Homo sapiens: one gene and its partner. The protein of the gene in region 1 interacts with the protein of each later gene in a biochemical or structural test. Each region holds a gene or a part of one and is shown on either strand. Other genes may lie near its edges.

Region 1 (3,817 bases):
CAAGAGTGATAATAGTACTTGGCACATACAGTTGTTGTGAGGTTAAAAATTATTATGCAAAATGCTTAACATGTAATGAGTGCTCAGTATCTCTTAGTAATTATCATTATTACTATTACTGGGTAGCGTAGGAAAAAAAGGCTATTAAAGATTGTGATACCACTTTTAAATTCTGTAACTGTCCTGGGCTAGAGGGTTTCAAAAACTTGGTTGGTTTATGGTACCTTAAGTGTCTCAGTAGTTTTTCTCATGGCTTCCCTAGGCCGAAAATACCTAATGGTTTCATTTATTAAGTATTTAGATCCAAAGAACTTAGTGTTTACATCCTAAAAACTTAGTAGCCGTTTTTTTTTTTTAAATACACACATAGTGAAAAATATTTTTATTTAAAAATTAAAATGTTTTATTTTAAGCAACCAAAATTTCTAGTATATACACTGCACAACCTCCCAAATTTGGATGTGGCCACTGTCATTTCCTGTTCCACACTGATTTTTGCACAGTACTTACTTTTTTTCACAGCAACCACTAACAGCCAAGCTTCTCAAAGATGTGGTGGCATTGAAAGGAATGTAGTAAAACGATCTAATGTTCAAACGGAACTACTTGGACATTTTTCTCCAAACTTAGAATGTGCCACACTAGGCCAGGTGCAGTGGCTCACACCTGTAATCCCAGCACTTTCGGAGGCCAAGGCGGGCGGATCACCTGAGGTCGAAAGTTCAAGACCAGCCTGACCAACATGGAGAAACCCTGTCTCTACTAAAAACACAAAAATTAGCCGGGCGTGGTGGCGCATGCCTGTACTCCCAGCTACTCGGGAGGCTGAGGCAGGAGAATCCCTTGAACCTGGGAGGTGGAGGTTGCGGTGAGCCGCGATTGCACCACTGTGCTCTAGCCTGGGCAACAAGAGCAAAACTCCATCTCAAAAAAAAAGATATGCCACACTAACATGTGATTTCACTGCAGTGCCTGAGGACCTCTCGGCACATACATAGTAACTGCAATTCTGTTTTTGTTTTTGTTTTTGTTTTGAGACAAAGTCTCATTCTGTTGCTCAGGCTGGAGTGTAGTGGCGTGATCTCGGCTCACTGCAGCCTCCGCCTCCCGAGTTCAAGTGATTCTTGTGGCTCAGCCTTGGGAGTAGGTAGGATTATAGGTGCCCGCCACCAAACCTGACTAATTTTTGTATTTTTAGTAGGGGTTTCACCATGTTGTCCAGGCTGGTTTCAAACTCCTGACCTCAGGTGATCCCCCTGCCTCGGCCTCCCAAAGTGCTGGGATCACAGGCATGAGCCACCGTGCCCGGCCTAGTAACTGCAGTTCTAAGCCGCAAATCTTGAAAGAGGAATGGTTTATCATTGTAGTTTATTCAGCCAATAGGCTGAAAAAAGATTTGCGATTGTGCCTTTTAGAACAAAACAGTTACAGGTTGAGTATCTCTCGTCTAAAATGCTTGGGACCAGCAGTATATCGGATATTTTTCGATTTTGGAATATCTGCATTATATACTCATCAGCTGAGCATCCTTAATCTGAAAATTCAAAATCCAAAAAGCTCTACTGAGCATTTCCTTTTTTTTTTTTTTTTGAGATGGAGTCTCGCTCTGTTGCCCAGGATGGAGTGCAGTGGCGCGATCTCGGCTCACTGCAACTTCCGCCTCCCAGGTTCAAGCAATTCTCTGCCTCGGCCTCCCAAGTAACTGGGATTACAGGTGCCTGCAACCACGCCTGGCTAATTTTTGTATTTTTAGTAGAGACGGCATTTCACCATCTTGGCCAGGCTGGTCTTGAACTCGTGACCTTGTGATCCACCTGCCTCAGCCTCCCAAAGTGCTGGGATTACAGGTGTGAGCCACCAGGTCCGGCCTGAGCATTTCCTTTGAGTGTCATGTTGGCACTCAAAAAGTTTCAGATTCTGAAGCGTTTTAAATTTCAGATTTTTGGATTAGATATCCTCAACCTGTAATAACTTTAGAGAAAAGAACAAATTTGGGCCGGGCACGGCGGCTCACACCCATAATCCCAACATTTTGGGAGGCTGAGGCAGGCTGATCACCTGAGGTCAGGAGTTCAAGACCAGCCTGGCCAACATGACAAAACCAAACCCTGTCTCTACTAAAAATATAAAAATTAGCCAATCCCAGCTACTGGGGAGGCTGAGGCAGGAGAATCCCTTGAACCTGAGAGGCAAAGGTTGAAGTGAGCCCAGATGGTGCCATTGTGCTCCAGCCTAGGTGACACAGTGAGACTCTGTCTCAAAAAAAAAAAAAAAAAAAAATCTGACCAAGACCCATGGTTTTTATTCGTTATAATGAGGTAGTGGTAGTAAATCAGGGGAAGAGGATTTATGATAGAAGTAGTCCTGAATATTGGCCGGGCACGGTGGCTCACGCCTGTAATCCCAGCACTTTAGGAGGCTGAGGCAGGCAGATCACGAGGTCAGGAGATCAAGACCGTCCTGGCTGACATGGTGAAACCCCATCTCTACTAAAAATACAAAAAAATTAGCCGGGCGTGGTGGCAGGCGCCTGTAGTCCCAGCTACTCAGGAGGCTGAGGCAGGAGAATGGCATGAACCCAGGAGGCAGAGTGTGAAGTGAGCGGAGATCATGCCACTGTACTCCAGCCCTGGTGACAGAGCGAGACCCCGTATCAAAAAAAAAAAAGGAAATGTCCTGAATATGAACATTGGACAAAGCAATGAAGTTATACTTACTAAATTTCTAAATTATAATTTCATACTCAAGCATCAAAATGCCTTGTAGAGAGACCTTTAAGCCAAAAAAGTTTATTTTGAATGGTAATACTTGTTAAAAAAATGTTTAATAAGTCTTTATTAATTGCAGACTTTGATTTGTGATAGGAATGTGTTCCTCTAGTAAATTGGTGCTTTTTTTTCAGGCAGTAGCAGGTTTGTTGGCAGATGCTCGTTCTTTAGCAGACATAGCAAGAGAAGAAGCTTCCAACTTCAGATCTAACTTTGGCTACAACATTCCACTAAAAGTAAGTTGATAACATATTGAGGAACCTTTTGGACAGTAATAGAAGTTTATTAATAAGCTCTTCTGCTTCCCTCCATAGCATCTTGCAGACAGAGTGGCCATGTATGTGCATGCATATACACTCTACAGTGCTGTTAGACCTTTTGGCTGCAGGTAAGAAATTTTGTGAATTATTCAAAAGGCAGATCTGTACTATAGATATTTATTATGTTCCCCAGCATCTTAGCCTTTTACATACTTAAAAATAGAAACTCGTCGATAAGTATTAGGGCAATGATTAAATAAAACAGTGTACATAGAAACTACTTGAGGCTGGGTGCCATGGCTCAAGCCTGTAATCCCAGTACTTTGGGAGGTTGAGGTGGGAGGATCCCTCGCGCCCAGGAGTATGAGACCAGCCTGGCCAACGCAGTGAGAACCTATCTCTACAAAAAAAATTTAAAATTTAGCCAGGTGCAGTATCACATGCCTGTAGTCACAGCTACTTAGGAGCTGCTTGAGAGGATCATTTGAGCCCAGGAGTTGAAGGCTGGAATGAGCTGTGGCCATACCACTGTACTCTAGCTGGCGCAATAGAGACTCTGCCTCTTTAAAAAAAAAAAAAAAAAAAAAAAAAAGGTTTCAATAGTGAAAAGGACTATATAGATCTGAAGTGATTATAAAACAAGGAACTGATAACAATGACTTTAATCTGATTATAATAAGCTCTCGGTGTTAGTCCCTGATATTCTTAGGTAATTTTAAAAATTACGTCTCACAATTCCCATTAGGCACGGTTTCTCTTTCTGTTGAAGTGCTGATATTTTATTGTGGG
Region 2 (4,541 bases), on another chromosome or scaffold:
ATAGGAAGGGAAGAGTAAAGAGAGAGAGAGAGGTCAGAGTCCAGGTTTGTTGTTCATATGTTTTCTTGAAAGGGCACTATTTCCCAGAATCCAGGTCATCTCTGGGTAGGGAATCCCCTGAATTAGTTTTTTCTGAGAGTATATTAGATTTGCCCTCACAGTAACCCCATGCTGGAAATACCCAACTCCAGTAGCACTTTTCTCCCTGCCTTTTCCCACTGAAATAACATAATAATATAGGAAGAATACAAGGACTATAGAAATACAGATTAGTGTTTGAACCCTTGCTTACCAGCTACTACTAATATGATTGTGGATGAGGTAGCTTCTTACTTATTAACGGGGATACTAATAGAGGTGGTTCCTTACAATGATTCCATTTATGATTTTTTATTTAATAGTGATACCAAAGCAATACATACTCAGTAGAAACCTACTTCAAGTTCCCATAAAATCATCTGCTTTTCACTTTCAGTACAGTATTTAATAACTTAAATGAGATATTTCACACTTCAGTAGTAAATACACTTTTTGTTAGATAATTTTGTCCAACTGTATGCTAATGTAAGTGTTCTGAGCATGTTTAAGGCAGGTTAGGTTAAGCTATGATGTTTGGTGGGTTAGGTGTATTAAATGCATTTCTGATTTTGGATATTTTCAGTGTACAATGGGTTTACAGGGATGTAACCCCATCATAAGTGAAGGAGCACCTGTACTTACTTCATTAAAATGCTGAAACAGTAAATAAGGTAACATTTAATAATATGTTGTGCAGTTCTTGAAATTTAAGTACTCACCAAATATTACTTTTCCTTTTTTTGTTATTTACTTACTTTTCATTCATTTATTAATTCATTTGTGCATTTAGTAAACATTTATAAATTATTTCCTGTGCCTGACAGCATGCTGGAACAGTGCTAAAGATACAAGTTAATTAAGACACAATCACGACCCCCAAGATTCCTACTCTTTTCTAAAGATTACAGACAAGCAGACGATGCTATTGTTGAAGAAACATGCTCTGAGAGGCATTTGAAGGAAGTGTAGAGGATAGAAGATGGACACATAACCCAGGATGGGGAGGAAAAGAGTTAGGGAAGGCTTTTTGACGAAGATACTGTTTACACCGTGTGTTCTTATAAATTCATGGTGGTGGGGATAGAGTTGGAGGAAAAGGCATGCTCAGTGGCGTGGAGATGGCAGAGAGATTGGGGTGTTCAAGGATATGCCGGGAATTCAAGGAACGAGAATTCCCATAGACACAGACACAGCTAGACATAGAGATCTGCAGCTTAGGTTTGGGCTGTGGGTATAGATCCAGGTGGCTTCAACAGACAAAGATCTTTCCTGAGAAAAGGGAAAAGTTTTCAACACAGAAAGACCATCCCATGTTTGGAATGAGGTTTGCAAATAGATTGCTTGAGGAGAGAAGTATGTGATCAGAAAGCATTCTTTGTCTATTAACTCCTGCCCAGCAAAAGTGAAAGAAAATTCATGGGAGCATGCAAGAACAAAGAGCACAGCAAAGCTGGACAAACACAGCAATCCAGGCAGGGGATTTCCAACTCAACTCTGGTATATAAGCTGCATGCAAAGTCCTTTTTCTGTCTCTGGTTTCTGGCCCCTTGTCTGCAGAGATGGCTCCCAATGCTTCCTGCCTCTGTGTAAGTTGGGATTTGATAAAGGGGATGGGGAAAGGAAAAGCACTTTCAAGAGTTGGGGAGAGATCTTAGAAACGGGGGCTGGGCAGTACTCAGGGCTCTGGGGGGCTGGGCAGGCATCCTTCAGGAGAAGAGGCTGGCATTGACATTTGCAGAATGGGAAGAGGGATTGTCTGAAGAGAAGCTGGTTATCTGGCTTCTGTGTTCTTTTTTAAATAAAACATTGGACTAGCTACTCTTAGGGATAAATGGTAGAAGAAAAAGTGGGGGTGAGCTTTGTGTTCCACAGGGCTGGTGAGATTTGAAATTATGGTAACATTTTTTAAGGTTCTTAAACTTAATCTTCCCTCTCCTCTCAAAGGAGAGCTTCACAAAACTCATTCATCTGAAGTTGTTAATGATCTAACACATTACATTATATAAGAAAATATGCACTATGGAGAGAACCTGGAATTAAGGCAATGCTTAACACAGATCTTCCAGTGAAGAAATGTCTGCAATATCTAGATTGGGAAAATATTTCTGAATGGAGTATGAGGGAGGTCTTCTCAGGCTTTCAAGTGGCCATTAGGGGTGAGTTTTCCCATCTTTTAGGATTTTCCAGCTATTGAAGTAAGACTTAGATATAGTCCCTACCTTCTGTGAGTGAGGCCCTAGTCTTATCAAAGGAGATCACATTCTATATTAGTGTTACCAGGGGGTCTTTGCTCCCAGAGCTCTCAAGATGGTGGTGGGCTGCTTCCAAAATGGCCGCAGGCCGCTTCCAAGATGGTGGCAAGCCTCGTGTTCTCTGACCTGGGGTTCTTGGCCTCATGGATTCCAAGGAATGGAATCTTGGGTCATGTGGTGGTTGTTACAGCTCTATTAGAAGCCATGGGTCACGGAAGAGAACCGTGGACCCAGTGACTAGTGTTCAGCTCGATTAGGAAGAACCTGGGCACTTAGCCGTGCAGAACAATGGTACGCCTTTAGCCCAATCAGGAGCGGCAATGGGCGCCTCACTGGTTCAGAAGCACAGCGGACACCCTGCCAGATCCGAGGGATGGAAGTCAGCCGCGGGTCTGCGACGGTGGCAAACGGCAGTGGTGGATGGCAAGCGAAAGCTCACCTCGAGCCGTAAGAAACATAGACCAGAAGAGTGCAGTTGCAAGATTTAGTAGAGTGAAGACAGAGCTCCCATACAAAGGGAGGGGACCCAAAGAGGGTAGCGTTGCTGGCTCGAATGCCTGTGTTTATATCCCGATCATTGTCCCTCCCGCTGTGATCTCAGGCAATAGATGATTGGCTATATCTTTACCTCCTGTTTTTGCCTAATTAGCATTTTAGTGAGCTCTCTTTACTACCTGATTGGTCAGGTGTGAGCTAAGTTGCAAGCCCCGTGTTTAAAGGTGGATGCAGTCACCTCCCCAGCTAGGCTTAGGGATTCTTAGTCGGCCTAGGAAATCCAGCTAGTCCTGTCTCTCATTAGATAGAAATAAAAACACAAGAAATATAAATTAACAAGAAACACTGAACATAGTGTCACGGTAGTATGTGAGTTATTATTATAAAGCAGTGGGATATTTGAAAAGAAACTAACAGTTCAGTGATTATGTGTCCTACCCAGGATTTCCTTCTGAAGTATTGACAGAGGGTATCCTATGGCTATGAGTATCTTCATGAGGCTGTCATATTTTGGAAATTCTCTTTGAGAGTTGTTTTTAGAGTCTGATGTACATCTTTTGAAGCCTCGTATTTACTTGTTGACATTTGACAAACTTTATCTGGATAGGAGAGGCAGGTAAATAAGGTGGAAAATCACTAATTACATTTTGAGATGGATAAAGGTATGTTTTTTACATCCATTGAAATGCACAGAAAAACGAAATGTAAAGATTGTCAACTAAAAAAAATCACACAATTCATAAATTTAGAAGGGGAGTTTATTTCTTATGAAAGGTTATAGTCTGCAAGGTAGCCATTCTGACAGGCTGGGAAGTTTTGCTTCTGATTGAAAACCAAAAGCAAGCACTTTGCAGGAGGAAAGGTGACACAGGAATTTATGCTGAAGGGGTTTGCTAAGTATACATATCCAATAGGTTATAGCAGAGGCAATGAATATTCATGGAGGGGGTCCTAATGCATGCATATTGAATAAGCTTGCATGTTACATACCACCCATGGTCACTCTGAAGTGGAGACTTAACATTTAATTGCATTACAGTTAGGCCTTATACATGAAAAGGTGAAGCAGGGACACAAAGGCATTCAAATGCACAGCTTCTGTAAACTAGCCAGAACCAGTCCATGGTCAGTGGTCTCTTATCAGGAGAAAATTACTGAAATCAGTCTTTTGTCCAATTAAAACTGTAGTTATGGCTTGTGGAACACGGGGTCAGTTAGCCTGTGTTCCCCAACACAGGGTGAGCTGTAATTGTTTTAATATTGTTCCTGTCAAGGCCAGTGCTTGTTTAGCTGCTAGAGAAAAAAGAAAAAACTTTGTGGCAGAACATAGTTTATTCTTTAAGTGTAAGGGATGCATGACTTAACTTTTGCCTGTTATAGCCCTCGGTCTTGTTTATAATTTGCTATCTTATTGCCACAAAGAATCCATTCTCTCAGTCTTATAATCTCTAACTTTGCTGGTCAGTTGTGTCTAAACTGCAAAAGGGAGAAGATACAATGAGGCATATCCAACCTCCTGTTCCATCATGACTGAATGTTTTATTTATTTATATTTTTGAGACAGAGTCTCACTCTGTTGCCCTGGCTGGAGTGCAGTAGTGCCATCTCCACTCACTGCAACCTCTGCCTCCTGGATTCAAATGATTCTCCTGCCTCAGCCTCCTGAGTAGCTGGGATTACAGGGACTTGCCACCACTACTGGCTAATTTTTGTATT

The links.
Region 2: the proteins of PSMA3 (region 1) and UBD form a complex in vitro, tested with the Homo sapiens proteins (one study listed by BioGRID).

What each region holds. Positions count from the first base shown.
Region 1 is NC_000014.9:58,254,843-58,258,659, forward strand, and holds part of PSMA3 (proteasome subunit alpha type-3), read left to right. Parts: intron 1-2,902; coding exon 2,903-3,004; intron 3,005-3,082; coding exon 3,083-3,156; intron 3,157-3,817. UniProt on the Homo sapiens protein: Component of the 20S core proteasome complex involved in the proteolytic degradation of most intracellular proteins. This complex plays numerous essential roles within the cell by associating with different regulatory particles.
Region 2 is NC_000006.12:29,556,798-29,561,338, reverse strand, and holds the start of UBD (ubiquitin D), read left to right. Parts: upstream 1-1,606; 5' UTR 1,607-1,637; coding exon 1,638-1,664; intron 1,665-3,565; exon of another isoform or gene 3,566-4,541. UniProt on the Homo sapiens protein: Ubiquitin-like protein modifier which can be covalently attached to target proteins and subsequently leads to their degradation by the 26S proteasome, in a NUB1-dependent manner.